Linked DNA regions of Homo sapiens. The protein of the gene in region 2 purifies or fractionates together with the protein of the main gene of each other region. This does not show direct contact. Each region holds a gene or a part of one and is shown on either strand. Other genes may lie near its edges.

Evidence for each region. The genes of interacting proteins can lie anywhere in the genome.
Region 1: the proteins of TEX264 (region 2) and MINK1 purify together in Homo sapiens (affinity purification with mass spectrometry; 3 studies listed by BioGRID and IntAct, with this or other methods). This does not show direct contact.

The regions. Positions count from the first base shown.
Region 1 is NC_000017.11:4,885,334-4,889,079, reverse strand, and holds part of MINK1 (misshapen-like kinase 1), read right to left. Parts: intron 3,598-3,746; coding exon 3,467-3,597; intron 3,170-3,466; coding exon 3,115-3,169; intron 2,961-3,114; coding exon 2,882-2,960; intron 2,630-2,881; coding exon 2,454-2,629; intron 1,971-2,453; coding exon 1,901-1,970; intron 1,501-1,900; coding exon 1,290-1,500; intron 1-1,289. UniProt on the Homo sapiens protein: Serine/threonine kinase which acts as a negative regulator of Ras-related Rap2-mediated signal transduction to control neuronal structure and AMPA receptor trafficking.
Region 2 is NC_000003.12:51,674,243-51,677,988, reverse strand, and holds part of TEX264 (testis-expressed protein 264), read right to left. Parts: intron 3,719-3,746; coding exon of another isoform or gene 3,685-3,718; coding exon 3,427-3,684; intron 1-3,426. UniProt on the Homo sapiens protein: Major reticulophagy (also called ER-phagy) receptor that acts independently of other candidate reticulophagy receptors to remodel subdomains of the endoplasmic reticulum into autophagosomes upon nutrient stress, which then fuse with lysosomes for endoplasmic reticulum turnover.

The DNA of each region.
Region 1 (3,746 bases), on a different chromosome or scaffold from region 2:
TGAGGGAACTTGTGCCTACTTCTGCAATGAAGTTGCCAGCAGGCCTTCTCCAGGTAACACCTTGTTAGATAGGACTCTGTGGCTGGGCGCGGTGGCTCACACCTGTAATCCCAGCACTTTGGGAGGCCGAGGCAGGTGGATCACCTGAGGTCGGGAGTTCGAGACCAGCCTGACCAACATGCAGAAACCCTGTCTCTACTGAAAAAAATACAAAATTAGCCGGGCGTGGTGGCGCATTCCTGTAATCCCAGCTCCTCAGGAGGCTGAGGCAGGAGAATCACTTGAACCTGGGAGACGGAGGTTTTGCGGTGAGCCTAGAGTGCGCCACTGCACTCGTCACCCTGGGCAACAAGAGCAAAACTCCATCTCAAAAAAAAAAAAAAAAAAAAGATAGGACTTTGTTACTATACTATCTGAACGCTATATTTATTTTATTTTTTTATTTTTTGGAGACGGAGTCTTGCTCTGTTCCCCAGGCCAGTGGCGTGATCTCAGCTCACTACAACTTCCACCTCCCAGGTTCAAGCGATTCTCCTGCCTCAGCCTCCTAAGTAGCTGGAACTATAGGCGCGTGCACCACCACGCCTGGCTAATTTGTGTATTTTTAGTAGAGATGGGGTTTCACCATATTAGACAGGCTGGTCTCGAACTCCTGATCTCACGATCCGCCCCCATCCTCCGACTCCCAAAGTGCTGGGATTACAGGCGTGAGCCACCTCACCTGGCCTATATTTTCAAAACTGCACAAGGCTCTTCTGTAGCAGGTTTTCTTGCAAATTATTTTTTGTTCAACAATGAGAGGGCCTACTTTGGAGGTAGCAGGTGGACAGTGTGGGTGCTGCGGGTTATTGCTTATTATTATTAGAGACGGAGTCTTGCTCTGTCACCCAGGCTGGAGTGCAGTGGTGTGATCTCTGCTCACTGCAACCTCCGCCTCCCGGGTTCAAGCAATTCTCCTGCCTCAGCCTCCGGAGTAGCTGGGATTACAGGCATGCGCCACCACACCTGGCTAATTTTTGTATTATTAGTAGAGATGGGGTTTCACCATGTTGGCCAGGCTGGTCTCAAACTCCTGACCTCAGGTGATCTACCCACCTCAGCCTCCCAAAGTGATGGGATTACATTTTGTGTTAAGTCCAGCTCATCATGAAATTTGAAATCATATAATTGTTTCAACAGAAATGCCATTCATTTAAGGCATTTTAAAACCTGTTCTCCAAGGCCCTAATGGACCCGGGGCAGGTCAGGAGGAGGCCGCGCCAGGCCTGGGCCCTTCGGAGACAGCCCACCTCCTCCACGCGGCGCCGCTCCTCCTTCTGCTCCTCTATGCGCCGCTGCCGCTGGTGCAGCAGGTGTTTGATGTGTGCCTCGGGGTCTCGCTGCTGCTGCTGCTGCAGCTGCTGCTGCTGTTTTAAAGCCTCTGAGTTGCTCTTATTTTCCTGCTGGAGCCGGAGAAACTCCCGGCGTAGAGTCGACTCTCCAGGCACGTTCATGATGGAGCTGGGCAGGGGTGGCACAAAGAAGCACTGGGGTCAGAACCCTGTTGGTTCCCACTCTCAACCCCGTGGGCCCGCCTGAGTGGGTGCTTTAACTGGATCAAAGCCTCTGCCTCTGGCCACTCCCAGGTGGCCAGGAGACTTACCGTCCCCTTCTGCCCAGTCTTCAGTCCTGTCCTCCTTTCCTATTACTGCTGCGCCCCACATTCACCACAAATTGCTCTCTCCCCAGCTCTTGCTCAGTCATTGGTTCCACTTCTTAGCACTCAGAAATTTGGTTTCCAGGAGTCTCTACCTCTCTGTGCCCACCACCCCCAGGCTGAGAGTCCCCAAAGCCAAGCACCACTGTAGTCCCCCCACTCAGCGATGACCGCCCCAACCCCCACTCCACCTGCCAGGCCTACCTTGGCTCTCCTTCCTCTCCATGGCTGTCATCTTCCTCCTCGCTGCCGCTGTACTCATATTCTGTCTCCTCTGCAGGGGGAGGCCACTGCAGTTATCTCACCCAGCGCCCCAGACCCGCCGTGGGCTAGGGAAACCTTGGGTGGGGATAACCAGGTCTCTCTGGCTGGGCAAGCATGAGGGGCCCCACCCACTTCCTGGGGGCAATGGGAGGACAGCGGGTCTCAGGTGTGGGCCTGGACAGGACCGGGACTGGGTCCCAGGGCAGCTGAGGTGTGGCAGAGCCTGTGCTTGTGCTCGCACACACATGTGCTTAGCATGGAGTTTTTGTAAGGATGCGAAAGGCCGGTCCTCCTTTGGAAGGCTGATTCAGACTGGGAGGGAAAGGAGGGAAAACCCCTTGGGGGTTGCAAGTTTGAGAACGATCTCCTTGGACAGGGAGAGCTGGGGCCAAGGAGGGGAGCAGGAAGGGGTGCCAGGAGCGAGCAGGGCTGGCAGAGAGGAGCCAGGCTGGAGTGTCCCCTAGTACCTGCCCCCTCCAGCCTGCCCACTGACCTTTCTCACCCCGCTTCTTCCGGGATCGGTCAATGTGGTCCTTAAGCTGGATGCGGACCTGCCGCTCCGTGGGCTGGTCCCGGATGAAGGGAAACTTCAGTAGCTGCTCCGTGGGTGGGCGGCTCAGGTAAGTCTTGATGAGACATGTGTCAATGAAGTCAATGAACTTCTTAGACCTGGAAACAGTGGTGGCTCACACTGGGAGGGTCCCCTCAGAAGGGATGGGTGCAGGAGGAAGAGGGTGGATCATTCATCCACAAGCCACCTTGACGTCCCTCCTGTCTTCATATCCCAACACCAGTCACCGCCCTCTGCCCCCCAGAATCTCTTCTCTGGTGAGATCCAAGCCTGAGCACAGAGGGCATGAAGGTGGGGATGGCCTTGTCCAGGGACCTTCCTTCCCAGAGCCCACACTCTCAGAGACCTACCACTTCTTGGACTTGAGCCTGGGCGGAGGGTTCCGAGGAATGAGGAAGAGGGCTCGCATGGGGTGCATGTCACACAGAGCTGGACACAGAGGAGACACCCTCAGTCCCTTTCACTGCACTGGGAGCTACAGGACCCTTCCTCGGCAGGGTCCCAGGACCCACCTCCTCCCTACAGCCACTCTCTGGGCCCTTCCTTTCCCTCCCCTCCCACTCCCGGCAGACTCAGAACTTACGGGGGGCTCCCTCTGCCATCTCGATGGCTGTGATTCCTAGAGACCAAATATCACTCTATAGACGGGAAAGAAGGAACAAGTGAATATTCCTGACAACTCTGCCCTGCAACCTCTCTTCACCCACCATCCTGGCCTCTCAGGAGCCTTCCTGGGCCACACCCATTCCTGCAGCAGTGCCTTCCAACCCATCCCATCTTCCCACCCACACTTGCCTTGCCGTAAGATGTTCCCCAGCCCCTCACTGCTAACATCATCTGACCTTCCTCTGTTCCCCAGCCTGCTCAGGCCCCGTGGTCCCCATATTGCTTCCCGCCCTTGGCAGCCCCCATGCTCCCAACTTTCCACTCCATACCCTGTAATCATAGGTGGCATCAGGGTTCTCATCACAGGCGATGACCTCTGGAGCCATCCAGTAGGGAGTCCCAATGAAAGTGTTCCGTCTGCCCACGGTGCGGTCCAGCTGAGCACTCACCCCAAAATCCACTGTGAAGACACAGAGGGAGGGGTCAGTGTGGGGAGTCACCTCTGCTCCCTTGCCTCACATCCCTGCGTGCACACACAGGACTTGCCTGAGCCAGCTGTGGTCCTGGCCCGACCCAGACACCCCAGCACCCTCCTTTACCCCACCACCA
Region 2 (3,746 bases):
ATGCTGGGCTCTGAGGTGGGTGAGTACACCCATGAGCCCCTGCCAGGGTCTGTCCACTTCCCAAAAGACTTCTTCCCCACCTTCCCATTCCCAACCATGCCAAGGGTTTCAGGGATGGAGAATGGAATCCTTCCTCCTGCCTCACAAGAACCACTCACCCAGACCTGCAGCCTCTTCCCATACAGGACTCCAGGGCACAAGGCTAACAGCTCCAGCAGCAGCTACTATGAACAGGTCCACACCAACTGCCACTGTCCAATCTTAGTGGTACCCTTTCTTGTGCTACTTCCTGGGTCCACACCCAGCCTAGGTGGGACCAGCCTACTCCCTGCCCAGCTGAGGACAGGACGAGGCATGGCTAGGGAGCTGTCCGTCACACCTCATGGGGTGGGCAGCATCTAAAGCCAGGTGGCACCTCTCACCTGGTTACTCACCACCCCACTCACAGAGCCTGACACAGCCTCACTGCCTCCCCACACTCACAGAGAAGCAGGTTCTGGCTCCTGTCACTCTGGGCTAGGGAAGGACACAGTGGGGGTGGGACACTGAACAGGTCAGCCTCTATTCTCTTTCTCTGAGAACCAGAGCATGCCACGCTGCACACTGCTGGTGGAGGCAGCCTAGGGGACAAAAACCTTTGGTTCTCAGCCCACTCCAGGACCAGGATGGGGCCTTTCCTCTAGGCTCCTAACACCCACACACTGGCAGGTCCTGGTCCCCATGGTACCCTAGTGCCCAACACAGAGCCTGGTACAGAGCAGGTGCTCAGATATTTGTTAAATGAAAACAAAAACATATGAGATCAGTGCCTTTCTCCTACTATCTGAATCTGTTTCTCCCTCCATAATATGGAGTGTGGACCAGGAGGCCTCAGGTCCTTCCGGACCAGTCTGTGATAGCCACGAGCACCTGAAGCCTGGGGGTCCATGGTTCCCTGAACCTGTTACAATCTCTGTCAGGCAGAGAATGCACTGACCAGCTCCAAGAGTAAATGGGGACCCAAGTGTCCCTGAGCCATCCCAGGTGCCAAGTGTGACCTAGCTCTAAATGGGGACACAGGTGTCTTCTGGACTGACCCAGGACTGGGATGGGCAGGGTCAGAAGGGCCACCTTGACTTGTTCATCATCCTCTGTGCCACCCAAATGACCACAGCCAGGCCAAGGGTCTAGGTTTGCTCAGTCTGACCTCTCAGCATATGTTAGCACAAGTGGTTTTCCCACCCATCTTTGTTGTTGTTAAGCATCTGTTGAGGGCTAAGTGCTGGGGTAAATGCCTCACCTATATCACTTAACTCTTCTCAGTCTACTATGAAGCAGGTATTTTATCATTACTCTGCAGACAAGGAAATAGAGGCTCAGAAACATTATGGGATATGCCTAAGATCACTCAGCAGGACAGTGATGGGACAGAATCAGAACTCGGGACTGCTAGCCTCAAGGCTGTGCTCTCAGGCCACAGTCCCCCAGACAAGCACCCTAGTCAGACTATGACCAACCAACCCTGGAGACCCAGGGCCCACCCCATGGGGTCCACCACATCTCTGGGAAAGCTGCAGGAGGCAGTGGCCAGGCCAGAATATCCCATGCCAGGCTTCTTCCATCTCACTCTTCCCTAGACCAGCCTCCAGCACTGACCCCAGGGTACCCTGCTGCCTTAGCCCTTTCCCATCCAGGAATTAGCACCTCCAACCCAAGAGGCAACCTGTTGATTCCAGAACAGGCAGACACGCCAATGAGAAGACAGCCAGCTGCAAGGACTCTTCTTGCAGAAGGCTCTGACTGGGCCAGGTGTGGAAGGGGGGGCAGGGCCTTACACAACGGAGCCCTTGAAGGGGTGAGGGTCACACATCTGCTCTAGGAGCTCCCCATAGCCCACTGTCTGTCCCATCCCACTCAGGCTCCAGTGCTCCCAACTTCAGTTAGTGCCATCTCCTGGCCATGTGACTGCAAAACCTCAACCAACCCATGTCGCCTCTCACCTGGACCCAGCCCAATCTCTTCTACGGCCTCCTGCCTCATCTCCTTCCCTCCTCCACCTGCCCTTCAGCTAACTTCCTAAAACAAAGGTGGCAAATTGTGCCACATCCTTCTTCTCAACCTGCTGTACTTCCCCACCACCTGGCTGGGCAAACCCTTCCACCTTTCTCCACCCAAGACATGTCTACTAACCACAATTCTCTGGTCATCCCATGTCTTCAGGCTCTTGCTGTCACAGTTTTCTTAGCCAAGTACCCCTTCCCAACAAAGCAAAATTCTACTTACATGAGAAGGCCCAGCTGAAATCTACCCCTTCTCTGAGCCTCCCCAGCAGACTCATGGCAGCCTCCCTGAACCTACAGCTCAAAGTTCTGTGGACATCAAGCACAGTGTCTTGTTGGAGAATCACTTATGTGGGGCTGACATGTCAGCCACACAGAGCTTCCTGAGGGCAGAGCCAGGTCTGATTCATCTCCAGAGTGTAGGTGTAGAGTAGAACCTGGCACAGAGAGGGAACCAGTACATCCTGTTTCAACTAGTGCCCCAGTAAGCCGGTCAGCACACATTGGGTAGACTGCAGGACTTGTGCACTTGAGCTCTCCAGGCAAGGAAATCAGAGCTGGGGATTCCAAATGCTTGGTTTGGCATGGCTTAGTAGTAGAGGCTGAAGAACCCTTGACAGAGCTGCCAGCCCATCCAGCTGTGGGCAGCACCACCCCATAGCATAGCAGTAGGTTACATTAGCAAGCTCTGACTCACCATAGGTTGTAAGAACAGCCAGACGCTCACAGGGTGCTAGTGATGCTGGATTAGTTTTTGACTTCAGCATTCTGAACATTCTAAGTAACTCATCTGGCTCCACTAGCCCCCTTGGCCATCTCCCAGCACCAGCTTGAGGTCTAAGGAAATGCCATATCACCAGGTTGAGGGGCATCAGAATGGCTGAAGAGGTAAGATTCCAAGCCCCATCCCCAGGGACTGCCCTCTCAGCCCTCAAGGGCCTACAACTATGGCAGAAGAGCTGAGGGATGGAAAGCACAGAAACAGCAAGATGTAACCCCAAAGAGTGGGCAGAATCTGAATGGCCTGGCCTTAGAGCACTGGCCCCAAATGGAGATGGAAGGAGGGATGACAAGAAGAGGAGGCAGGGGACCAAAGTCCTGGCAGAAGCCAGGGATTCATGGTGGTATAGTCCACTGCATTTGGAAATCCACAAGTAGCCATGGGCAAGGGGAACCAGACCTGGGCAAATAGAAAGCCCACAAATGGATGCCGGGAGCAGAAGTCCAGGCTAAATCTGGAAGGTGCTTCAAGCTCATAGAGGAGGGGTCTGCAGGGCCAGCTTGAAGATTCTCCCACCCTTTCCTCAGCAACCAAAACTACCCTCCCCAAAGAAGCCCTGGCCCACCAGGCCCATCCATGGGGCAGAACCCCATGGAGACTCCTTACCATGTGGGGGTTGTCATAGTAGACAGCGATGGAGCGGAGCTTGGGAGAGATGCTGCAGCTCTCAGTGAAAAGCCGCCCAGTCTCACCATAGAGCCCCATGTGGAACTTGTAGGCCACAGTGACGTTGCGGATGGGGGGTGACCCAGCACTCACTTCCACCCCAGCCAGTAGCCCTGAGTACCCGGCAAAGGCCAGCAGCGTCAGCAGCAGTAAGAGAGTCAGGCCCCCAATCAGGCCCAGTAGTAGCAGGTCCGACATGGCTCTGGATCCCCAACACTGCACCTCAAGGCAGCTGCAAAGGAGAAAGAAGGGAGAGGAGG